Regions from separate parts of the Homo sapiens genome. Here regions 2 and 3 are each linked to region 1. Evidence: fine-mapped expression QTL. A gene starts in region 1. Each other region holds a variant in brackets. All regions are shown on one strand. Distances are between the middles of the regions. Region 1 holds the start of ATG16L1 (autophagy related 16 like 1). Region 2 overlaps ATG16L1 (autophagy related 16 like 1). Region 3 overlaps MROH2A (maestro heat like repeat family member 2A).

The links. PIP is the estimated chance that this variant, and not a neighbour inherited with it, causes the effect. A credible set is the group of variants that fine-mapping cannot tell apart.
Region 2: its variant is the best candidate, but not a certain one, in a credible set for the expression of ATG16L1 in monocytes after LPS (Fairfax 2014, PIP 0.72).
Region 3: its variant is the best candidate, but not a certain one, in a credible set for the expression of ATG16L1 in caudate (GTEx, PIP 0.51).

Annotation. Positions count from the first base shown.
Region 1 is chr2:233,242,996-233,253,739 of GRCh38, reverse strand. It overlaps ATG16L1 (autophagy related 16 like 1), which reads right to left and starts at 2,067. Exons shown (of 18, transcript NM_030803.7): 1 at 1,798-2,067. The coding sequence starts at 1,912. RefSeq lists enhancers at 1,780-2,479, 5,260-6,459.
Region 2 is chr2:233,288,634-233,293,633 of GRCh38, reverse strand. ATG16L1 (autophagy related 16 like 1) reads right to left here. Exons shown (of 18, transcript NM_030803.7): 13 at 3,660-3,780; 14 at 3,281-3,386; 15 at 1,357-1,506; 16 at 1,200-1,247; 17 at 277-378. It also overlaps SCARNA6. Among named protein-coding and RNA genes, the nearest start is that of SAG, 17 kb to the left of the region's middle. RefSeq lists an enhancer at 4,449-4,950. The variant C/T (reference allele first, on the strand shown) is at 2,819.
Region 3 is chr2:233,783,944-233,794,687 of GRCh38, reverse strand. MROH2A (maestro heat like repeat family member 2A) reads right to left here. Exons shown (of 42, transcript NM_001394639.1): 4 at 5,060-5,191; 5 at 4,674-4,836; 6 at 1,794-1,892; 7 at 864-1,015; 8 at 182-325. Among named protein-coding and RNA genes, the nearest start is that of MROH2A, 11 kb to the right of the region's middle. The variant C/T (reference allele first, on the strand shown) is at 4,358.

The DNA of each region.
Region 1 (10,744 bases):
GTGCAGTGAAAGCAAAGAACCATTTGCTGGGGGAGCCAGTGAGAAAAGCAAATGCAAAAGTTAGTCATCAAGCCTAAGTTCAAATTCCAGTCCCGGCTGGTCACTGTGGCTCATGCCTGTAATCCTAGCACTTTGGGTGGCTGAGGCAGGTACATCACCTGAGGTCAGAAGTTCAAGATCCGCCTGGCCAACATGGTGAAACCCTGTCTCTACTAAAAATACAAAAATTAGCTGGGCGTGGCGGTGCTTGCCTATAGTTCCAGCTACTAGGGAGGCTGAGGCAGGAGGATCTCTTGAACCTGGGAGGTGGAGGTTGCAGTGAGCTGAGATCACGCCACTTGCACTCCAGCCTAGGTGACAGAGCAAGACTCTGTCTCCAAAAAAAAAAAAAAAAAAAAACAAAAAAACCCAGTCTCACCATTAACCTGCTGTGCAACCTCAGAAGTTACCTAATCTCTCTTGGCCTCAGTTCCATGTGTGAAAATGGCAATAACAGTTCCTGCTTCATACACAGAATTTTGGGAAAGATAAAATAACACATGCAAATACTTACCACAGTACTAAAATTTGTCTGCACAGTAGTCATTTGGGAAGCATCAAAAAACACTGATAACTTGGCATGCAGTTCTAGGCTTAATCTCACACAAACACAAACACACACACACTGATACTTGTGTACTGTGATACTTGTGATTTAGTTGGTCTGGGGTGTGGCTTGGGATTTGTAATTTTTTAAAGATCCATAGGTGATTCTAATGTGGAGCTAAGTTTGAGAACTACTGATTTTGCACAATCAGAATGCAATATAAGGTAGCAATTATTATTCTGAATATCATCAACAGCATAACTTGAGAAAGTCGTCAGGTTTACTTTCAGACGCAGATGGAACCACCTTAGGACCATTATAATTTAGGTAAAGGTACAAACATTTTTGTACCCTTAAGCTGCAAGCAGTAAGGGGAAAGAAAACCACCTCTTTCATACTGAAGATTTCAGTAACAGTAAAGGTTCTGTCCCGCCTAAAAGATATTACGATATTAACACCAAGGTGGGGCCGGGCTCGGTGGCTCACGCCTATAATCCCAGCACTTTGGGAGGCCGAGGTGGGAAGATCGTTTGAGCGCAGGAGTTGGAGACCAGCCTGGGAAACACAGTGAGACCTCGTTCCAAAAAATTTTTTTTTAAAAAAATTAGCCGACCGTGGTGAAGCGCGTCTGTAATCCCAGCTACTCGGGAGGCTTAGGTGGGAGGATCACTTGATCCTGGGAGTTTGAGACTGCAGTGAGCCGTGATCTCCGCCACTGCACTCCAGGCTCGGCGACACAGCAAGACCCTGATCCCCTATCCCGTTTCCCCGCAAAAAAAACCACCAAGGTGGAGTAAGGGAAGTAAGTTTGAGGAATCAAAGGCCACCCGTTCCAGTGCATTGAGAAGGCAATGTTAATTCTGCGACTGAAAGTCAACGACCGTTTCATTAACATGACCCCATAGATGGGATGTTTCTGGGACCTATTTAAGTGCATAAGCATTGTATGAGCTACTGGGATTTACAAATACAAACACGAACTGTGCCTCCCCACAAAGATCGTACAATTTAATAGGGAAAATCCTCCAAAGATAAAACGCAGGTTAGAAAAAACATTTAAAAGGCGTGCGGCGTCCCAAGCGCGGGTTACCCGGGGCGGCCGCCATGCGTGCGGGCGGCGCCAGGGACTCGGCCTCAGGTTCCCGCTGACGCCCCGCATGCCTCCGCGGGGCCCGCCCGCCCCACTCCCAGCCCGCACCGGCGCCGCTCACACTGCAGGATGATCTCCTCGAACGCCTGTCTCTGCAGCCGGTCCCGGCGCCTCAGTTGCTCCGAGATGTGGCGCTTCCAGCGGGGGAAGTCAGCGGCGCGGAGGCCCGACGACATGTCACTTGCTGCCCCGGCACCTCAGCGCCACCAATGCGAGCGAGGGCTGACGGCCGCAGCCTGCAGCATGAAGCAACCAGCAGAAGCGGGAATGCCGGCAATCCCGGAGCTCACCTCCACACACTGGCAGTCCCCGAGGCCATCCGGGACGGTCTTCCGGCTCATGCCGGAAATGATTTTCGAGAGGGCCGGAAGACCCGCCCCCTCACCCGAAGCACGGGCTCAGGAGCCGGTGCCTACGCAGGGCGCTCGCTAGTGACGCCAGCCTGTAGCCGGAAGCGTCAGCTGCAGAGAGGTGGCCGCTTGGGGGCGTCCGGGCCCTGCGCAAGGCCCAGCGCCGGGCGGGAAGGAGGCAGGAAAGGGGCCGTTTCCGCCTGACTGCTTACTTTTCTTTTGCTGCTTTTCAACCCTTTTCGTGTTTTTTTTCTTGGCCTGTCTCCCCCCACTTTTATTTTTAATCGCAGTTTAGGAACAAATGGGGTTCCCTCCATAGTAGCTCTGTGGCTGTGGATGAGTGACAGCCTACCTAAGCCTCAGTTGTCTCATCTGTAAATGGGGACAGTAATGATACCTACCTCAGAAGGTTGTCACGAATAGTAAAAAGAAAAACCCATGTAATGCAGTCAGCACTGTGCTTGGTACAGGGGAAACCTAAGTTTACAAAGACACCTGGTGTCTTCCCAAGGCCTACCCTGACAGCAGGAGCATTGCCATCTTGGACAACTGCCACCATTTTAAGTTCCCCTTGATTAAGAAACTGCCTAAATCCAACCCAAAAACATCAGCCTAATGGCTAATGTCAGCATAACCAGAAACATTCCAACCCTAAGATAAACCCACTTCCAACCAGAAACATGCCAACCCAGAGATAGCCTCCCCTCCGGCCAGAGACTTTCCAACCCTGCAATAAACTTTCCCTCATACAGAAACATTACGAACCTGCAATAAGCTCACCGCTTCGTAAACCCTTAAACACCCTTAGTGTGTAAGAGAAAACGCTCCTGACCAAAATCGACAAGAAGCCCCTCTCAGGTTTATTCTCCAAAATAAACCTGTCTTTGATTGTTAAGCTGCTTTTCGTGTTTCTTTCTTGTTTCTTAACTCTTACATACCTGAAGTCAGGGTGCGTTGGGAAGAGTGTCCCACTGAACTTGGAAACAGGTTTTGTGGTTTGTTTGGGGTTTTTGTTTTTGTTTGCAATGGAGAAGAGAACTGGAAACGGGAGCTAAGAAAGATGTGAATTGTGTATCAGAGTTTGTCTTCATTGTTAGAATCCTAGAAATTGTGGCCTGACAATAAATGGAGCCTTAGAAGGTAATCTGAGGCTGTAGATGTTGAAAGGGGGAGATGAAGACACACTGGCTCCTGAGAAAGTTGTGTCTGTGAACAAGCTCAGTAGAATGGAAAACCCAGTTCTGTAATAGAGTTGCTGGAGCTCCATCTGCCTTTAACAATTAGTGAATTTACTGCATGAAAATGGAGCCAGACAAAGTAGTTGGCCAAAAGAGGAAAGGAATATCAGAAACTACCTTCTCTTCCAGTGTGTCTCAAGTCCAGAGGAAGGTCCTTCAGAGACAGATAAGAAGAACTTAGGCTGAGGAGAGGAGGACAGTCAGGCTTCTAGCACTGTAGTTGAAGATGGTTCACTGGTAGTCAGTATTGAGTGGACCTGAAGTCGTTGGAAGGATCCAATGGGATCAGAAATAGAAGTGACTTCCTCACACGCTGAAGAAAATGAAAAAGTTCTGAAAGTGACCGAGAATGCCTTCAAATGCAGCAGTGGCACCACCCTTAAAAGACCATTACACCAAATCTTGACAGTTGAGCATGTTAATTTCCCACATTTATGATTAAAATATGTTTCCAAGGTTGGGCATGGTGGCTCACACCTGTAATCCCAACACTTTGGGAGGCCAAGGTGAGAGGATCACTTGAGCTCAGGAATTTGAGACCAACCAGCCTGGGCAACATGACACAACCTGTCTCTACAACAATACAAAAAATTAGTTGAGTGTGGTGGCGTGTGCCTGTAATCCTAGCTACTGGGATGGGGCTGAGGTGGGAGCATCGCTCGAGCCTAGGAGGTCAAGGCTGCAGTGAGCTGTGATAGCACCACTGTGTTCCAGCAGCCTGGTCAACAGAGCAAGACCCTGACTCTCTCTCTATATATATAAAAATATGTTTACAAATTTGCAGTTTGCCTAACCAGCAATTCCACTTGCAGGAATTTATGCCAAGAAATATTTGGACACATGTCCACATACAAAAATCTTTGTTGCAGAATTGTTTTTAGGTTGGTGTAAAAGTAATTGCGGTTTATAATAATGATGAGAAGTTGGAGAAAAAAATCTACATTTCCAACAATAAGAGATTGGTTAAATTACTGTACATTTATTGCTGGAAATTGTTGATAGTAACAGCAGTATATGTCATAATTTATGTAAAATGAGTATGTCCCTAGCTCATCATAGACAAATATTTGTTGAACACATGAAGAATAATTTCTAAAGAAAGAATATGAAGCTCTGCTAGTCCTGCCCTCCTCCTAACTCACCAGCTTTATCTAGCACACAACCACAGCCACGCTGAAGCCTCTTACTTCCTTCTGCTTACCGTGCTCCCTCTCGTTGCAGGGCCTTTGGATTTACTGTGTTGGGCACATCTTCCCTTCTGACTTCTCCAAATTAATTTCTGTGTGTTCGTTCTCATTTCAGTAGTCACTTCCTCGCAACAGTAGGATGAGAGACCTTCACAACCTGTTACAGATCTTATCTCCCTGTTACGCGTGTACCTCTCCTTTATAGCATTGATCCCAGTTATAGGTTCACATGTATTTGTATCATTACTTGATAAAGGTCTGTCTCCCCCAGTAGACTGTAAACTCCATGAGACAAGAGCTGTGTCTGTTTTTGCACATCATTATATCTCCAGCAAGAGCATGAAGCCCTTTATGTATTAGGTGCTCAGTAAATGTTATTTAATTAATGAATGGAATATGTGAAAATACTGATAATAGTATTATCTGTAGGCAGTGGTGTTGCTGGGTTTTTTTCTTATATGTGTATTTTATATGCATTTTCTAATAGGTAGACATTATATATATATATACTACATATGCATGAAAAAGTTGGGCCGGGCGCGGTGGCTCACACCTGTAATCCCAGCACTTTGGGAGGCTGAGGCAGGTGGATCACCTGAGGTCAGGAGTTCATGACCGGCCTGTCTAACATGGCAAAACCCCATCTCTACTAAAAATACAAAAAATTAGCTGGACGTGGTGTCAGGCGCCTGTAATCTCAGCTACTTGGGAGGCTGAGGCAGGAGAATCGCTTGAACCCGGGAGGTGGAGGTTGCAGTGAGCCGAGATTGTGCCATTGTACTCCAGCCTGGGCGACAGAGTGAGACTCTGTCTCAAAAAAAAAAAAAAGTTATAGAAATAAACACATATTTATTGATGAAACCACTTATGTCAAAGCATGGTAGACTCTGGGAGATCACAAATAAGCAGGAACACTTCTACAGTGCTACGGGCTGTGCATTCTTCTGAGTAGTATTTCACATATTATAACTCATTTCCTCCTCACAATAATCCTGCTCAGTAGCATCTTCATCCTTATTTACAGACGAGGAATCTGAGGCACAGGGAGGTTAAGTAACTTGCATGAGGATACCTGGCTAGTAAAGTGGCAAGACCTGGGTTCAAATACAGGCAATTTAATTCTAGCATCTGTGCCTTTAACCACTGCACTCCATCATCCAGTCTCTGTTCTGGCTGTCACTGCAGTATGACTGGACTAGAATACATGAAACAGAATAATTTTTAAGTAATATGTGACTCACTCCTAAATTAGCCAATAGGGAGGGCAACCTGGTGAAGAGCAAAGTCAGTGATGGGGAGGCTTCAGGTGTGTTCACAGGCCCTGAGGGGAATGACTGGCTGGAGGGTGAGTAATACAGGGGATGAGTAATAGGAAGGAGGAGGAAATAGGTTGTCTGAATACTCTGGTGACAAATAACAGATCTTGAGAGTTTTTATATTTGTTCTGGTAAATAGTGATTGTCTAAAGGATTCAGCATGCTTTGCTGGGAAGCAGCATCTGTGAAATGGAGTCTGACTGCCTATAATGGATGTAAGATAAATGTAAAATATCCCAAGATTCTTGTAGCAATATGTTAAGCCTCACGAATTTGCTCACAGGAAGTAGAAAAGGCGTCACTTATCAAAGGACTTTTTTTGTGGAAAGTCTAGTTTCACTGAACCAAAGTTCCACCAGCTTTAACATAACAGCACCTCTGTGGCAGCATTTCCACTGCTAAAAACTTCCAAGAGATTCTCACCTCCATCATTGATGCCTACACATCTCATCTGTGAGATCCTCTAGTTATGCTCCAATTCAGAGGAATTCAAGGGCCAACCTTCAAACTATTGTCCTATTTACTCTTTTCTCTGCCCTTTGGGTCTTCCTGATTTCCTTTACCTTCCACTCAGCAGGTTAAAAAAACAGTGCAATTCCAGTGTGGGTTGGGCATAGGGATGGGCATCCTGACTTCAAAGAATTCACTCTAGGAAGGGAGATTGGAACACGTATCAGTTATGGGTGCAAGGAACATAAAGTACAAAGAGCCGGCCTGATGGCAGTACCAAAGGGATTCAATTATCTTCTGTTGGTTTTTCTCTAGCTTTTATTCTTAAAATCTCATTTCCTATTATTCTTTTAAAAAATTATCTTAGTCTTTCTTTATTTCCACTCCTTTTCAGCTCTTCCCAAAATTATATTACTCAAAGTGAAAATAAACTAAGTTAACTGTGTTACTGTGTTAACTGCTGTATAAACCCGATAGCTGCTAGAGTAAACCAAAGGATAGTCAAGAAACCAACTAACACAGGTTTCCAGACACACCACTGAGCCTTCCAAACCTTATTTATTTATTTATTTATTTATTTTTATTTTTTGAGATAAGGTCTCACTCTGTCACCCAGGCTGGAGTGCAGTGGCATCATCTTGGCTCACTGCAACCTTCGTCTCCTGGGTTCAAGCAATTCTCATGCCTCAGCCTCCCGAGTAGCCGGGATTACAGGCATCTGCCACCATGCCCAGCTAATTTTTTGTATTTTCAGTAGAGACAGGGTTTCACTATGTTGGCCAGGCTGGTCTCGAACTCCTGACCTCAAGGGACCCGCCCATCTCGGCCTCCCAAAGTGCTGGGATTACAGGCGTGAACCACTGTGCCGGGTCCAAACCTCATTTCTTAATATGATAATAACAATGCCCCCTTATAGGCATATGTTACTTGGCTCTTTTGCTCCTTGTTTTTCTTTGTTTTTTTTTTTAGGGTCGTTGCTTTTGTGTATACACATATATGCACACGGCAGGAAATTTTCATTATAAAGAATCTCTGTGTACATAGATTAAACCACATGCAGGTCATGTCCTTCACTCCGTATATATGTTGACACTCAGATTTCATATTATTTTATTTCATTTTTTGAGACAGGGTCTTGATCTGTCACCCAGGCTGGAGTGCAGTGGCGCGATCACGGCTCACTGCAGCCTCAAACTCTCAGGCTCAAGCGATCCTCCCACCTCAGCCTCTCAAATAGCTGGGACTAATTTTTGTTTTGTTTTGTTTTGTTTTTTTGTAGAGACCGGGTCTTACTAAGTTGCCCAGGCTGGCCTCAAACTCCTGGGCTCAAGTAATCCTCCTGCCTCAGCTTCCCAAAGTGCTAGGATTACAGGCATGAGCCACCTTGCCTGGCAGATTTCATATTATTTATTTATTTTTTATTTTGTTATTTTTTTAGATGGAGTCTTAGTCTGTTGCCCAGACTGGAGTGCAGTGACTCGATCTCAGCTCACTGCAACCCTCTGCCTCCCAGGTTCAAGCAATTCTCCTGCCTCAGCCTCCTGAGTAGCTGGGACTACAGGTGCCTGCCACCAGGCCTGGCTAATTTTTGTATTTTTAGTAGAAACGGGGTTTTACCATGTTGGCCAGGCTGGTCTAGAACTCCTGGCCTCAAGTGATCCACCCGCCTCGGCCTCCCAAAGTGCTGGAATTACAGGTGTGAGCCACCATGCCTGGCCAAATTTCATACTTTTAAAATGATGTCTGAGGAAGTGTTATTATCCTTATACTACAGTACAAGCATTTTAGTAACATTTCAACTTTCTTGGAGATCTTTATCTCCTCTGCATATTGGCAGCCGGTGTCTGGAATGCCGGCCAGAGGATTCAACATGACACCTCTAGCAAGCTGGGAATGTGATCCGTGGTGGAGGTGGGGAGGCTATCTTCCTTGGTTTGTTTCTTTGATCTTTAAAGAGATGATAAAATTTCTCCTAGGCACTACTGCAATCTCCCACTACAAATAATAGTTAATGTTATGGAGTGATTTTTACATGTCAGGCACTGTGTTACGTGGATCAACTTATTTAATTCTCACAACACGATAATGTAGGTATATTAATATTTCCTTTTTGGAGATGAAGAAATAGACATATAGAAGTTAAATAACTTGGCCAGGCATGGTGGCTCATGCCTGTAATCCCAGCATTTTGGGAGGGTGAGGCGGGCAGATCACCTGAGGTCAGGAGTTCAAGACCAGCCTGGCCAACGTGGTGAAACCCCGTCTCTACTAATAATACAAAAAAATTAGCCGGGCATGATAGCAGACGCCTGTAATCCCAGCTACTCAGGAGGCTGAGGCAGGAGAATCACTTGAACCTGGGAGGCAAAGTTTGCAGTGAGTCAAGATTGTGTCATTGCACTCCAGCCTGGGAGACAAGAGTGAAATTCCATCCAAAAAAAAAAAGTAACTTGTCTGGTGTCACAAGTTAGGAAGAAGCAGAGCAACGTGTCTGGTGTCACAAGTTAGGAAGAAGCAGAACTAAGATACAGTCAAGGAAGCCTGGTGCCAGAACTCACCTGCTTCACCATGCTACTGGCTGTGTGTCAGGCTATGAGGGCTGAGACTGTTTTAGGTTGAGATTGTGTATCAGTTAGAATGTTTTTGATAGCAAGCAAAAGAAGTGCAATATGAGCTACCTTAAGGGAAAAAGGGGGGTTATTGTCTGGATTCAGTGTGCTGCAGAGACTGGCAGCAGAGATGTGGCTGGATCCCAGGAATCACTGCAACCAGGATGCAGATCAGCCAGCGTGCTCAGCCCTTTGCATCCGCTTCTCCATGGCTTGCTGCTTCCTTCTTCTCTTGTCTTGTGGCCCAGCCATTTGTGTTTCGCGGTTCTCCCATCCTCGAGGTAAAGAAATAGCTCCTCTGAAAGCTCCTCAGTACACACAAGCAGCCAAACAGAGCTGGCGCCTCTGAGCTCCAGTTCTCAATTCCTGGGAGAAGACTCTGATGGACCAGCAGGTGCCCGTATCTAAGAATCCTTGTGGCAAAGGGGCAGGCCAGTCTTCCAGGACAGCTTCCTTTGGATGGAGGGGAAGGGGCAGCTCCCAGAAGGGACAGGCAGAACACATCTTCTGTTTGGCCTGGCTAGCTCGCTCTTTCTTTCTCTCTCTTTCTCAATCTCCCTCTCCCTCCCTCCCTCCCCGCTCCTTCCTTCCTTCCTTCTTTCTCTTTCTTTCTTTTCTTTTCTTTTTTTTTTTTTTTTTGAGACAGAGTCTCGCTCTGTTGCCCAGGCTGTCGCCAGTGCGGTGGTGAGATCTTGGCTCACTGCAGCCTCCACCTCCCGGGTTCAAGCGATTCTTATGCCTCGGCCTTCTGAGTAGCTGGAATTACTGGCATGCGTGCCACCTGACTGGCTAATTTTGGTATTTTTAGTGGAGACAAGGTTTCACCATGTTGGCCAGACTGGTTTCAAACTCCTAACCTAAAGTGATCCACCCGCCTTGGCCTCCCAAAGTGCTAGGATTACAGGCATGAGCCACCGGGCCCAGCCTTCCACCTTTCTTTTGGTAACAGATTATACCCTCCTGCTAGTTAATGGTATTTCTCCATCCCTTCCTGCAACAAATTGGCCCCAGGGGTAGGCATAGGAACGCTTCTCAGTCACCATCCTCCACAGGAATTTTTAAAGTGGATCCAGGGGAGAGGGTCCCTTTTCTTCTTTGGTTGTGAAGTCTAAGGATCTAGATCTAGATCTGCTAGTGGCTGTGTCCCCTGTCTCATGAAAAGGCCAGTCTGAAAACAATGGAACAATCCTACAGAGAGAAGTAGAGATGAGAAGCCAGGAGCCCTGATGGAGTTAGAGTCCCTGGTTCCAGCCAGTCCTGCAACTAGCCCAGCCCTATTCTCCCCACCAGGACTTGAGCCAACACAGTCCCGCAGGTCACTTAAGCTAGTTTACACTGAGCTATTATCTTCACTCGCCACCCAAGACTAATACAAGCAGGCAAGCCTAAGAAAAGACCAGGGCTGCGCAGACAAAATGACAGTCACTAAGTCAAGCTTTTCCACTTTAAGATATTGACAAGGGGGAGTCAACCGGCTGCTCTGCCCTCCATGCAGTTTTTGTGTTTACCAGCAATCCATGTCCAAGCTTCTTGGGAAAAGTTTCTGGATCTGAGATCTCATGAACTTCTGAGTAAGTTAAGCTCTGCTCTAAATAATAGTATCTGCAGGTGGGAGAAATTTCGAATTAAAAAAATCATAACCCCCAAAAAAATCATAGCCCCCCCCCAAAAAATCATAACTCCAAAATTACAATTAGAAATATTAGAATAGGCAGGGCATGGTGGCTCATGCTTGTAATCCCAGCATTTTGGGAGGCCGGGGCAGGCGATCACTTGAGGTCAGGAGTTCAAGACCAGCGTGGCCAACATGGCGAAACCCTGTCTCTACTAAAAATACAAAAATTAGCTGGGCATGGTG
Region 2 (5,000 bases), 43 kb before region 1:
CGTGGACATAACCAAAGAGTCAGGGATGTGTTTCTATAACCCTTTCTCCAGCGGCTGCCACTCTAACCGCTCTACCTGGCGTACTCTGTAGACTGTGGCCTGCTGTGCTGTGTGAGTGGCCCCAGCTTCTCTCCACTGACCTAGCTCAGCCAGCCGAGCAGGTGGGCGGACAGTGCCCTCACAGCGCCGACTGAGGTCTAAACCGGATGACCCCTGAGATGAAGTCAAAGGCCTTGCTCACAACGCAACGGGGGGCTGAGACAGGGTTCATCTTACCTGTGCTGCTTTGAAAGAACCTTTTCCACTTTCCCTGTGAGCACACTCCAGATATACAGAGAGCCCTCAGCAGAGCCTGCCGCCACGTAACTGCCATCAGGGCTACAGAAGACAGTAAGAAAAGAAAGGTTGTCAATTCCCCACCCCCAATTCAGCATCTCTGTGGCCTTTTTCCCAAGAAGGAATGTTTGTTCTTCACTGATGACCACTCCTGTGTACCCAGACCTCAGAATGTGTGCTAGTCATGGCCCTTCCAGCCAAATCTGCTTTTCCCCAGTATTTCAGCCCCGTCCGGCTAATGAACAGTGGCATCACATTGCTTCTTGGGGCTCCAAGTCCTTAACCATCTACAGACTTCAACAAAACAACATATAGGGAGATCAAAGCCAACCTCCACATAGCTAAGGGTTTCAGCCCATGGACTGCCTTGTTACATGCCTCAAAGAGAGGAGGGAAGAAAAGAAACATCTTAGCAACTGAGCCTGGAAAGGTATTTGGAAGAAGCAGGATACATGGAAGAAGGGAACAAGGAGCAGAAAACTGCAGACCACCTGCACACCCTTCTCCAAAAAGCCTTTTCAGTCCCGCCCCAGGCCCACGGCCACTCCTGCCCTTTTCTAAAGGCTCTCCAACAGCTCTTGCGTGAATGAGTGATGAGAAGTGAACCTAATGGGCTCACCCACAACAAAGCAACCAGCCAACTGTTATTTTTTGGTACAACACGTTAGGTTCATGTAATCACAAAAGGAACACTGGAAAGGAAGAGACAATAATGGTGGCCTGCAATTATGAACTTACAGGCACACTCCTGGAAACATAGGTTGGGCACTGAACAAAATTTAGCTCTATATCCCCAGTGGGAAAATGCCCATGCAGGACTCTTTGTGATGAACCAAATTGGCGGGGGGTGGGTCACTACTAACCTGAAGACAACTCTGGTCCAGTCAGAGCCGCACTTGAACCCAGGTGCACTGAAACAAACAACAGGGCACTGTCACTGAGGGAGCTCAGGCCACGCAGCACGTTAAGAGAGCAGGGCTGGGCCTCTGGTCTTCATGCAACCAGCACATCTTCAGTTACCTGAATGTCTGCTTGATAGCATTTGTTCGGAGATCAATAACTTTTAGCAAGTCATCACGGGAGCAGCTCAGGAGCTCAGTCCTTTCTGGGTTTAAGTCCAGGGCAGTAATCTTTCCCAACAGCTCCATCTCTCGAACTATGCTCTCTGATCTAAGAGGGAGAACAGATCTGAGAAATGTAACGTAGGCCAGAACTACTTCACATCATGCCGTGGAGGAAAAAAAAGGCACTGCAATTCAACTAGCATGCAACGCTCTGCCAGCGCAGTCAATGTGTTCCCAGTCTTCTAATAACCTGTGACTGCTTTTCTTACTTTCCCATCAACAGACCCTAAGACAGTCATTCCCAGACTAGAACTCTGAAGTTGGTAAGAATTTCCTCATCCATTTTTGGAATGACAACAATCGCCCATCGGTTTCTGATCAGCATGAGCTAACTAGGGCTACTACCCAATTCGTATTATTTTCAGTGATGTGATTTCAACTTTTGGATAAAGTTGGCAAAGAAACCTGCATTAGTGGGCCTGGGCTGCCTTGTAAGTGTAACTCTAGCCTCTTGCAGGTTTTCTGCCCTATTCACTGTGGCTCTGTGGCCCTCCACCTCCAGATATGGGGCCAGGAAAGCCAGGGCAGAGCCACGGCCCTACGCACCTCCCTCTTCTTCTCTGTGCTGTGGCCCATGTCCAGGGTGGCTAACAGCCACCCTGGGCAGGGCCCTGTTGGTGACATTCATAGCCAAAGGGGGTGCTGACCTGTTCTGTGATGATTTTGTTGTAGGCTTTCAATGAAACCTTTTCCTACCTCCCACCTTAACTAAGCAAGAATTTATCTTATTGTTGCTAAATATGCAGCTTGAAGCAAGCTACTCCACTTCCTTGGGACTCAGGGTCTTCACCTGTCAAATTATGGGATGGACTAAGAGACTTCGAACATCCAACTTAACTCTCAAATTCCATCTTTCAAGTTCCAATTTCAGGTTTTAAAAGCAAACTAAAGATTATGAATAAAATGTGAAGTGGTGTCCAGGAACCATGAGCATTGTCAGGACTTTCTGGTGCCATGCTGTGTTTCAAAGCATCATCTATCACCACAGGCCCTGTACCCCCACCCTCTCTACAACCCTGCTGGGAGGCTGTCCTCATTTACTCTCCATCCTGTCTTCCCCTTCCTCCAACCTGTCAATAAGCCCTGTCCAAATTCTCCTTCAAATAGATTCTCTCCTCCACATGTTCCTCTACTGACTTGAACTTAGGTCCTTATCAACTCTATTGGTTTCCTATTCCCTAATATGCCCTCTCAAAATGCCACCAAAGTCGTCTACTAGACTCCTGCAAAGCAACCATTTCCTTGCTAAACACCCAACGACTTACAAGATCGAGTGATTTGACAATGGCTTATCAAGCCTGTGGCAACCTGATTTCAACCCCTCATAGCCCCCTCACTGGCTTCTGCCCTGTTTCCTG[C/T]TCACTTGCCATGTATCAGCCACCAGACACACACTCAAAAGTTTGAGTGGCTTTCCTGCCGTGTGAATCCTACTCACGTCTCCGGAGAAATCTGGAGAGGCATTCTTTAACACACTGGAACAAACGTAGCTGCCTCCACTTCAACACACTAGTCACTGACTTTTGCGTTCTGCCTTCCCTACTACAGTTTAAATTACCTAAAGGTAGAAAGAGTATCCTGTTTGCCTTTTCTTACCTGCCAGCTGGTGAAGGGCCTAGCACTCACTGCATGCTCAATAAATGATTGCTAAGCTCCACAGTCTACTTCATGGGAAAGAACAGCCAAGTGTTAATAAGCTAACACTATACGTGTACCGAAACTCATTTCTGCCATGTCCTGAGATCTTAAAAGCACAACCCATGTACAGAACCATTACTGTGGAGACTCTTATGTGCCTCCAGTCAGGAGCTTGGGTATCATACCGAATGTCCCAGAAACGAATTTTCTTGTCAAAATGTCCACTCATTACACATTGCTCTGTGCAGACAATATCATTGCAACTGGATCCTGCAAACACTGTCTTTATGCCTGAAAGAAATGCAAACATCATTAATCAAGCAGAGGCACCAACGTGGCTGTTTACATAATGCTGCCACCCTCTAACCACTGACTTGTCAGAGTTACTCACTTAAATGAAGCTTTAAACAAGAAAAACTATCACTATCCTCAGTGCCCCTCTAAACATGAAGCCAGATCTGAAATTCAAACTATATTACATAAATGCAGGCTCTGACGTGCAAACACACACCTCCACGCTAACATCTAAGCATATACACAGACAGAGAGACTGAATTTCCTCACAGACTTTGCTGCGTAGATCCCAGAGTTTGAGAGTCCGGTCGTGACTTCCTGAGACAATCCGCGCATTGTCCAGCAGGAACTTAGCAGACAGCACTTTCCCACTGTGTCCCGTGAGTGTGTGCTAGGAGAGAGAACACAGCCAGGGTGAGCCTCAGGGCGCCAGGCCCTGCCTATGCTGGCAAAGTATCCACAGCATCCTTACCTCCAGAGTCAGAGTGTCAGACCACCCTGAGATCCGGCCAGGAACACTCAAAGCGATAAGACAGCAAAGGAAAAAGAAACAGGTCAGGCACAGTGACTCACGCCTGCAATCCCAGCACACTGGGAGGCCAAGGTGTGAGGACTGCTTGAGCCCAGGAGTTCAAGAACAGCTTGGGCAACACAGTGAAACCCCCATCTCTACAAAAAAATTTTTTTAAAAATTTGCAGGGAGTGGTGGCATGCGCCTGGGGTCCCAGCTACTTGGGAAGCTGAGGCAAGAGGATTGCTTGAGCCTGGGAGGTTGAGGTTGCAGTGAACTATGATAGTGCCATTGTACTCCACCTGAGTGATAGCAAGATCCTGTCACACACACACACACACACACACACACACACATCCCAAACAGGACAAGAAGCAACAATTTCATTCACTGAGTCTTATCCAGGGGCCATGTATCTCATAGGAAGCCTATCTTTGAGTGTTGGCCAAAGGTGAGGTATCAAGACCAAAAGGATAAAACTCCCACTAAAAATAACATTAAAAACAAAAATTCAACATCACTAGCACCAAGCTTCACGTGCTCCCCATCCTCAATCTTGAATTTGAAATCAGCTCTACCACAGATACCTGCTGTACTGTTTTTGTAATTTTTCTATGTCTGAATTATATCAAATTAAAGAATTTTTAAAGCCTCGATGTTGCGCCATGCTGCTGAAAGTCAGTTCCATATTTAAAGTCAGACTAGACAAGGTCACCACAGGCATAATTTACAAAAGGAAACATCAGGACTCCTTATGTAAACAATTAAAACCCCTGGGGGATTTTCAATCAGAGGTCTCAGCTTGAACAAGGCAGATCATAGCCACAGATACCAGCACTCCCAACAATCAAATCCCTTTGTGACTAAGCTGTTGGATGCCAACCAGTGTCTTCCCTGAGCTCACGGAGGAACACAGAATGAGGGACATCACGGAGTGTCAGCTGCCCTTCTGCCCATCGCAGCACTTCTGAAGTGCGATGGAGGAGAGGCAGCTGGGGATAACTGGGATGCCGGGAGGGGATCTGAGGACTCAGACCTTTTACCATTCATCATTGACCTCTATGCAGTGCATGATCAACATTTTTCTATGTGTAAAACAC
Region 3 (10,744 bases), 540 kb before region 1:
CCCATGAGTCCCACGGGTGCCAGGCTCCACGCCCCTCCCTCGCAGGGCACAGATGTCGGGTTCCTGACACAGTGTCAAAATATCTGACATCCCCCCGGCTCCCACTCATCCCCTTTAAACACTTGGGAGCCCCCAATTCCCTAAGCCTCCTGCCCAGAGCCGTGGCTGCCTGGCCACTCGCCTGCGTGACGAAGAGCACCTCCAGACTGCCCTGGTACTCCGCCAGCAGCAGGGGGATGTAGTCGTAGACCTGCTCCCGCAGGTCATCGTTGGGCAGAAGGAGGCCGAGCATGGGCTTCAGGGACTTGATCACCCCCAGCTTCACCTGCCACCAGAAACCAGCTCTGGGACGCATTGTCTCACCACCCTCCAGCAAGGCCAGTGACCTCAGCCCCAGCCACAGAATCCAAGGACACAGGACAGAAGGCGCCTCAGAAGCAGAGCAAGGTCTTTCCTGCACAGGCGGCCGGGTTTGAGTCCCTCCCACTTAGCAGCCACATGACCTTGAGCAGGTACTTAACCCCTCTGTGCCTGAGTTTCCTCATTTGTCAACTAGTCCTATATCACAGAGTGGGTGTGAAAATAGCTCCCATGGGTAAGACGCTGGTAGAGTGCCCAGCATGTAACAAGTGCTCTCAGGATTATCACCAACCTTCATCAAGCCTGGCCTCGTGGATGAGGCTCCTAGGTCCCAGCTGTTCAGCATCCATGAGTTCCCCGGCTCTGCCATGAGTCAGGTCACTGCCCTCTAGGGTCCTGGGAGTAAGTGTGGACCCGACGGTCCCTCAGCACCTCCCGGCCCCACAGGCTGGGGAGCTGTGGCCTGGGGACCACCAGGCCCTCCTAAGAGGGGTGCATCTCACCTCGGGGTTGTAGTGCCTCAGCCACACTGTCACGAAGTAGCGATACATGGGGAACACCTTCAGGGCAAACTCCTCCTCAGTCATCACGGGGTACACGCTCTCCTCCAGGTGCTTCAGATAAAACTGCACCGTCTCACAGAAGGTCTCCATGGCTACCAACAGCAACAGGGGAATGCACTTGGCGCCAGAGGGGCTGGAAGCAGAACCAAGCCTTCCCAGCCCAGCTTCCCGAGTGGAAGTGCTCATGCCTTGCCGTAGCGAGCAGGCTGCACCCTGCCCTTCCAACCCCCCACAGCACCTTCATTTTTACTCTGCGTGCCTGTGTGTGTGAGAACTGAGCACTCGGGGGTGTCTGGGTCCCTCTCCTTCAAGGACAGAGACGGGGTCAAGGGCGAGGCCTGGAGTATGACCCTGCCCACATCCTGGGGATTCCAGGTCAGAGGGCAGTGAACAGTGAACACATGTGGCCCTCTTTTTCTCAGGCACTAGGGCTTTTTATAAGCCCACAAGAACATTAAGTAATCAAAATCTGGGGCAAGGTGATCAGATTGAAATAGCATCTAAGACCAGTCCCCGTCAAGCTCCACATGGAGCCGTTTTCCCCGGTCTCCCTCTCCTGTGAATGCTCATTGCTGTTCTGTGGTCTCATGAACTGAAGTGCTTAATTACAAAGCAAGCTAAATGGAGTCACCGTTGCAGCTTCTTCCCTCTAAGCCGGGATCTTCTAAAAGGCCCCCACCATGTCTCAGCCTCTTGTGCCCCAGGCAGCCAATCAGAGGCCACACGAAGTAAAAGATTAAGCAAACTCCTTTGGAGAACAAGTGAACAGTGCACCTCTTTTTCAACAACCCCTCCATCTGCTCCTTACCCAGCAGTCTCCCTCCGGCGCCCTGATCGAGCCAGACCTGCAGGCTCAAGTGGGACACTCACCACTGCAGATCGCCTGGCGTATCTTGGCTTCATTGGCAAGTCTCAGCATGGTGAATATGGTAGCCAGGGTGATGCCCATGTATGGCATGAACTCAAACACTGTGAGGTTGTGAGGGATGATTACAGGAAGTTGGGGCTGGGGGTGAGCAGAGAGAAGGCAGAGAGGACAACCCTGCTGCCCTCCACCTCCAACCCCTAACAGTCCAGAGCTGGCTTAGCCCTCTGTCCTGGCTGGGGCCCAGGAAATAGTCCAGGAGTCAGAAAAGCATTAAAAAGTGAGCTAGAAGGGCACGGTGTCTCACGCCTGTAATCCCAGCACTTTGGGAGGCCAAGGTGGGCGGATCACGAGGTCAGGAGATCGAGGTCATCCTGGCTAACACGGTTGAAACCCCGTCTCTACTAAAAATACAAAAAATTGGCCGGGCGTGTTGGCAGGCGCCTGTAGTCTCAACCACTCGGGAGGCAGAGGCAGGAGAATGGCGTGAACCCGGGAGGCGGAGCTTGCAGTGAGCCGAGATCGCGCCACTGCACTCCAGCCTGGGCGACAGAGCATGACTCCATCTCAAAAAAAAAAAAAAAGTGAGCTAGAAGCAGGTGACACAGGAAGAAAGCCAGGCAAAAGGGGAGGAAAGGGAAGAAGAGAGAGGACCAGGAGAAGGAAGAGGAGGTCCGAGAGAGGGAGGGAAGAGAGGACAGAGGAGCCCCAGGGAAGGAGGGGCAAGAAGCAGAAAGAAGCAGCCCCCAGAGTGCGTCCATCCTCCCGGACACAGGCCAGCCTCCTTCAGGGGTCCCACAAACGTTCTTGGGCGAACACAGAAGCAGGGAGACAGCAGGTGAGAGCAAGGAACTGAGAGAAGGCACGAGGCCAGCAGAGAAAAAGAGCAGACGGATGAAGGAAGGGAGCCGTAACAGGCCACCCTGCAACAGGAGGCAGGCCCCTCCACTTCACCCACCCTGAGTGCACCCCCATCTTCAGACTTCATAATAATCCCCCTCGCTGCTGTCCCTTGTCCTCTTTCCAGGCCTGCCTTCCCTTCCTCCCCTCCCACTCCATCCAGGCCTTTATCCCCAGCAAGCCGTGAAGCTCTTCCACCTCCCGCCTTCTCCAGCCTTATCTCACTGGACCCCTTGGCAGGATGGGCATCACGGGGGCCTGCACCCCTTGAGATTGTTCTCCCTGTGCCAGGCCTCACATTCCACGCTGTCTCTTACGACTCCTCCCGAGCCTTGCCAATGCCAGGACCCCTCCGGGCTGGGTCCTCTCTCTACTTTCACTCCCGGATATCAATGGCTTTGAACATCACCTGCACTCTGAGGTCACCAAGAACCAAAGCCAAGCCCAGACCTGCCCTCTGAACTCCGCGCCACAAATCAACTGCCCCCTTCACCTCTCCCCTGGGGGCTCCCACAGGCAACATGAGCTCCACACACAGCATGAAGTTCTTCACTTGAGCTCCCAACTCTCAGTGCTTCTAGCTCGGGAAAGGAGGCCAACACGCTCCCAGTGGCTTGCTACCTCTGCTCCTTCCCCCGTCCTCAGCAGGTCCCGTCTCAGAGCCCCTTCCCACCTGTCACCCCTCACCACATGCTTCCCAGCCCAGCCACCATCACAAGTACCCACCTCCTAGTACTCTCCATCCAGGCAGCAGTCAGAAAGGCCTTCCCACAACCTGCATTCACCAGGCGACCCTGCAGCTTAATGTCCTTCGATAGCTTCCTAGTGCCCGAGGTGACGTCCCCAAGGCCCTGCCTGACGCTCCCCCTCATCTCTCTCTCACTCCTTAACTCCAGCCACAGCCACTTCTCAACTCTTCAGAGATTCCAAGCTCTTCTCTGCCCCAGAGCCTCTGCAATGTTCTCTCCGTGTGGAATGCTCTCCCGGTCCTATGCTTCACACAGACATCCTCCTCTCTGCCTTCAGGTCTTAGCTGAAATATCGCTACCTCAACAAGGGCTGCAGAGATGAGGTCCCCTCCCTTAGCCAGATCTCAAACGCCCATTTGGCTGCTCTCTTCATACCCGTCACCTCCTGTTATAAACGTCTATTTCCTTGTTTGCCTGTTGGTCCTTTCTGAGCACCGGAGCCATGTGTGTCTTATGTATTGTAGTGGCCAGGTACCTGCCACAAGGCCTGCATGGAGTAGGAGCTCAGCGCATGCTTCTGGGATGAAAGGAAGGGAGGGAGGATGGAGAAGGAAGGAAGGAAGGAAGGAAGGAAGGGAGGGAGGGAGGGAGGGGAGGGGAGGGGAGGGGAGGGGAGGGGAGGGGAGGGGAGGGGAGGGAGGGAGGGGAGGTGAGGGAAAGGGGAGGGGAGGGAGGAAGGAAGGAAGGAAGGAGAAAAAGAAAGGGGGAGGGAGGGGAAAGAGTAAGTAAGGCAGGCAATTAAAAAGGAAAGGAAGGAAGGAGGGAGGGAGGAAGGAAGGAGGGAGGGAGGAAGGAAGGGGGGGAGGGAGGAAGGAAGGAGAGAAGAAAAGGGGAGGAAGGAAGGGTGGGATGGAGGAAGGGAGGAAGGGAGGGAAGAAGGAGAAAAAGGGGGAGGGAGAGGAAGGAGTAAGTAAGGCAGG[C/T]AATAAAAAAGGAAACGAAAGAGGAAGGAAGGAAGGAAGGAAGGAAATTAAAAAAGAAAGAGAGATGGAAAGACAGAACAATGCAGGTGGAGGGGAGCAGGAGAGAGGGGGAAGAAGGATGAGAGACAGAACACACAGAATCTTAACAGCTAAGAGACAAAAGGACTGCAGACACAAAATGAATCAATTTTAGAGGGAAAAAGAGAGAAATGAAAGGTAAGAGGAAGAGGTGAACATAGGGATAGATGGGAGGGGCAGAGAGAGGCAGAGACCAGAAGGGCACACTGGGCCCGGCTGAGGGCCCTCAAGCCCCTACCATTGCCGTTGGCCAGCTTGGCCAGTGTGATGATGACAAATTCATCAGTGAGGTTGAGGGGCTTGAGGTGGTGCTGCAGCTCGTACATGACCAAGCTGAAGTGGTTTCGGGACAGAGCCACCAGTGTGTCGCTGGCCACCTCTGCCTTCATATAGCCCTCCATCTGCAGGAGACAGAAGAGGGACATATGGCACCACCACCAGCCGGGCCTCCAGGAAAACCTTCCTACCCCAGGCTCTCTCCACCCCTCCTGGTTCCCTTGGGCTCAGCCTTACCCCTGCTCTGAGAGGTAACTGCACAGGGCTGTGGGCATCCTGGGCCAGGCCCCCCGTGGCCCAGCTCCTGGGCTGGCAGAGGGAAGGCACCGATGGAGCTTGGGGTCCTACCTCTGGGATCTCCCTCATCTCCTTGGAGGCAATGGCCACCAGCCTCTGCACGCACTGCTCCTCCAGCTCCCCCTCCTGCTGGATGATGTCCTGGAGGATGTTGTAAATGTTGACCTTGCGCTGGGTGGAAATCTGGGAAACAAGTATGGTGGGTGGAATGGACCTCACCCTGCCCCCAGCACAAGTCCACCTCTCTCTCCCACTGTCCTCCTTCCCTACACCCAAACCACCAGCCTCCAAACACACAAATCTTAGATCCCCATTCCTCCATTTCTAAATCCTCCTGCTTCGCTTCTCCTGCCCTTCTCATCCCACTGGCCCTGTCAATATGACTTGCGTATCTGTATTCCTGCCCGATTTCAGTAAATATCTGGCAAGGCAGGTGTTAAGTGATCAACACACAAGGTTCTCTATGCATGGGGCATTGGCCATCTTGAAAGCCCAAAGAAGGCAGGCTCACCTTGCCTTTGCCCTATTGAGGGAGTCTGTGGGCCCAGGAAAATTGCCTCTTACTCTCTTCCAATTCCTGCATGATAGCGCTTATCACCACTGAAAATGACCTGGTTTAGGATGGGATTGGGCAGATAGATTGCACATCCCAGATCACACCTGGAGGGTCGTATTTGAGAATACTTTTAATCAGGCATGACAAGTTACTCTTTTTTTTTTTTTTTTTTTTTTTTTTTTTTTGAGACGGAGTCTCGCTCTGCCGCCCGGGCTGGAGTGCAGTGGCGCGATTTCGCCTCACTGCAAGCTCTGCCTCCCGGGTTCACGCCATTCTCCTGCCTCAGCCTCCCGAGTAGCTGGGACTACAGGCGCCCGCCACCACGCCCGGCTAATTTTTTTTGTATTTTTAGTAGAGACGGGGTTTCACCGTGTTAGCCAAGATGGTCTCCATCTCCTGACCTCGTGATCTGCCGGCCTCGGCCTCCCAAAGTGCTGGGATTACAGGCGTGAGCCACCACGCCCGGCTGACAAGCCACTCTTAAGGAATGAGGGTTACTTTCTAGGTGGAGCCACTGCCTGCAAAGCCCTCAGGAAAAAATGTCCTTCCTCCTCTGGTGGTAGGGAGGTCACTCCCAACAGTCCAGAATCCTTAGCAAATTTGGGGACCTTAAGAAGAGAGGAATTCACCCAAATGTGTAAGTTCTACTGGTGAAATCCAGTACAGGGAGTCTTGGTCTTGGTTTCCTACTTTTGGGATAGCAAATAATAGGGATTTGTAAAACTCCAATCAGAAATCCCTATGACAGCTCCCAGAAATTAATGATGTGGCCTTAGTAGCTGCTCAGTGCTGTGTGGCTCAAGACCAGTGTTTCTCAATCTTTATTATTATTATTATTATTATTATTATTATTATTATTACTCCCAAGGACATTTAGACTTTTTTCCTAATCACACCCCAACGAGACTTTAATGCCATATATATGTATATGTGTGTGTATATATATAATATATGTATATGTATATATAAAATATATATTATATATATATAAAATATATATGTATATATAATATATATGTATATATAATATATGTATATATAATATATATGTATATATATAATATATGTATATATAATATATATGTATATATATAATATATGTATATATAATATATATGTATATATATAATATATGTATATATAATATATATGTATATATAATATATGTATATATAATATATATGTATATATAATATATATGTATATATATAATATATATGTATATATAATATATATGTATATATAATATATATGTATATATAATATATATGTATATATAATATATATGTATATATAATATATATTATATATAATATATATAATATATATTATATATGATATATATAATATATATGTATATATGATATATATAATATATATAATATATATGTATATATGATATATATAATATATATGTTTATATGATATATATAATATATATGTATATATAATATATATAATATATATGTATATATGATATATATAATATATATAATATATATGTATATATGATATATATAATATATAATATATATATGTATATATGATATATATAATATATATGTATATATAATATATATGTATATATGATATATGTAATATATATGTATATATAATATATATGTATATGTATATATATTATATATGTATATGTGTATATATATATAATATATATGTATATGTATATACATATGTGTGTGTGTGTGTGTGTGTGTGTTATACATATCCATGCTTTATAATGAAAAAGTAAAATTTTCTTTGTCCCCCAAGAACTAGTTTTACTTAACTGGGGGGCAATATCACCCCATTGAGAATGCAAGCTCTAGATTTTCACAGTAAACTCAAGGAGGCCAATATGCTTAATTAACACTCTTACTGCACCCTGTACAAATAGCCAGGCAAATTATAAGAAGATCAGCCTTTTTTGTGATCAAGAATAATCTTCGGAGAATATTTATAGTCACAAGAGAAAAACTGTCAAAGACTTGGAAATAACAAAAGCGATCACTGAGTGGCCTTCCAGAGCAGAGCTTGGTTCTGTCTGGCAGATGCTGTGGAATTACTGGATTCTGTAGAGTGTGCATCTGTGATTGCCAAGGCTACTTTACATCTCTGTAGGGAAAAAAGTTAAATCCTAGAAAACTGATAACAATGCACGTGTTTCCTACATAGGAATGAAAATGATTCCTGTTCATGGCAGTGCAAATGGATTTTGTCTGGTAAAGCACAGGTAAAATTCTCATTTGAACAGCTTTTAACATCTTACTAGTTCCTTAACTAGTTAAGGAGAAAATAAAATCTTTGATGCATGTTAATTTTAAAATGTGCCTATTTGTTTATTGTCTGTTTATTGCCACTGATGACTGATTAAGACCTGTGTGTTAATCATGGTTTCTTATTTTCTTCATTTCCTGATGCTTTGGCACCTGGGTCCTTGCTGACCCTAGAGAGACTACTCCTCCCAGAGCTAGCCAGTTCCTAGAGATAGTAACAAGTTGTCCATCAGCATGCTTTTTAAGTACAAAACAACTGTTACAGATTGAATAATGTACCCTAAAAATTCCTATGTTGAAGCCCTAACCCCCAGTGGGATAGTATTTGGAGATGAGCCCTTCGAAAGGTAATTAGGGTTGAATGAAGTCACAAGGGTGGGACCCTAATCTCATGGGATTGGTGCCCTTATAAAAGAAGCAGAAGACACAAGAGTGCTTTCTCCCACTGTGCGCATGCACAGGAGAGCCACGTGAGGACACAGTGAGAGGGCAGTCACACAAGAAAGCCAGCAAGGAAGCAAGGCTTTACAGAAACCAAATTTGCTGGCACCTTGTATTAGTCTGTTCTCGCATTGCTAATGCAAACATACCTGAGACTGGGTAATTTATAAAGAAAAAGAGGTTTAATGGACTCATAGTTCCACGTGGTTGGGAGGCTTCACAATCATGGTAGGAGACAAAGGGGGAACACAGTCATGTTCTACATGGCAGCAAGCAAGAGAGAATGAGAGCCAAGAGAAAGGGGAAACCCCTTATAAAACCATCAGATCTCGTGAGACTTATTCACTACTATGAGAACAGTATGAGGGAAACCACCCCATGATTCAATTATCTCCCAATTGTTCCGTCCCACAACATGTGGGAATTATGGGAGCTATAATTCAAGGTGAGATTTGGGTGGGGACACAGCCAAACCATATCGCACCTCAATCAGGGACTTCCAGCTTCCAGAATTGTGAGAAAATAAATTTCTGTTTTCTAAGCCACCCATACTATAGTACTCCATTAGGGCATCCTGAACACAGTATTCCAACCAACACAGAGCCCCTCTCCCAATCACCTCCTTTATTGGGCTCTCACACTCTGGGCCACTATCCACCTGTCCTAATCACACAGGGGAGGTATCAAACAGCCAGGGACAGCTACTTTGCCCCAGAGTCCACTGAGAATATTCAAATTAGCTAATTCTAAGCCTTCTTACCCTACCTCACCAGTTTCTTTCTACAGAAACCACAATAAAGCCTGTTGCCTATAATTTCCCCTGACTCCCTCTGCCTCCTCACAGACCCTAGTGCTTCCCCTGTGTGACCCTGCATGGCATGGTTGGCCCCCTCTCTTGGGAATGTAACAAACTGTCTTTTCTCCTTTTTTTTTTTTTTTTTTGAGACAAAGTCTCGCTCTGTCACCCAGGCTAGAGTACAGTGGTGCAAAATGGCTCACTGCAGCCTTGACTCAAAAATGCTGGGCTCAAACAATGCTCCCATCTCGGCCTGCCAAGTAGCTGGGACTACAGACAGGTGCCACCATACCCAATTAATTAATTTTTTTAGAGATGTGGTCTTGCTATGTTACCCAGGCTGGTCTTGCACTCCTGGCATGAGCCACCATACCCAGCCAATAAACTGTCCTTTCAAGAGCAAGTGTCTCCTGAGCTGTTGGTCTCATCATAGCTGAATAAAAACAAAGCCTACATTTTTTTTTTTTTGAGATGGAGTCTCGCTCTTTCATCCAGGCTGGAGTGCAGTGGCACGATCTCAGCTCACTGCAACCTCCACCTCCCGGGTTCAAGCAATTCTCTTGCCTCAGCCTCCCGGGTAGCTGGGATTACAGGCGTGCACCACCACGCCTGGCTAATTTTTGTATTTTTAGCAGAGATGGGGTTTTACCACATTGGTCAGGCTGCTCTCGAACTCCTGACCTCGTGATCCGCCCGCCTTGGCTCCCAAAGTGCTCCCAAAGTGGCATGAGCCACTGCGCCTGGCCTACATTTTTTAAAAGCCCGTGTTAGTCTGTTCTTGCATTGCTATAAAGGAATACCTGAGGCTAGATAATTTATAAAGAAAAGTGGTTTATTTTGGTTCATGGTTCTGCAGACCACACAGCAAGTATGCTGCCGGCCTCTGCTTCTAGTAAGGCCTACCCATGGTGGAAGGCAAAAGGGGAGCCAGTGCATCATGTGATGAGGGAGAAGGCGAGACAGAGGAGGCGCCAGGCTCCTTTAAACAGCCAGCTCTCATGTGAACTCATTACCACAGGGAGGGCACCAAGACATTCATGAGGGATCTTCCCCCATGACCCGAACACCTCCCTCCAGGCCTCACCTCCAACTCTGAGGTCACATTTCAACGTCATTAGTTTCTCATCAGCACATGGAATATTCTCCAGAATATACCATATTTTGGGCCACAAAACAAGTCTCAACAAATTCATAAAACTATAAATCACATTATTTTTTCTGACCACAATGGAATAAAACTAGAAATCAACCACAAAAAAACTTTGGAAAATACACAAACACATAGAAATTATGTAATATATTGCTGGATGACCACTGGTTCAATAAAGAAATTAAGAAGGAAATTTAAAATTTTACTGAAATGAATGGAAATAGAAATATAACATACAAAAATCTATTGGATACAGCAAAAGCAGTATAACAGGGAAGTTTACGACAATAAAAGCCTATCTCAAAAAAGTAGAAAGAATTCAAATAAGCAACCTAATGATACACATTAAGGAACTAAAAAAAGCAAGAATATACCCAACCCAAAATTTAAAGAAGGGCAAGAGATCAGTGCAGACATAAACAAAATCAAGAGTAATAAAACAATACAGGAGAACAAAAGAAAAGTTGAGTTTTTGAAAAAACAAACAAAATTGATAAATATTTAGCTAGAGTAAATAAAT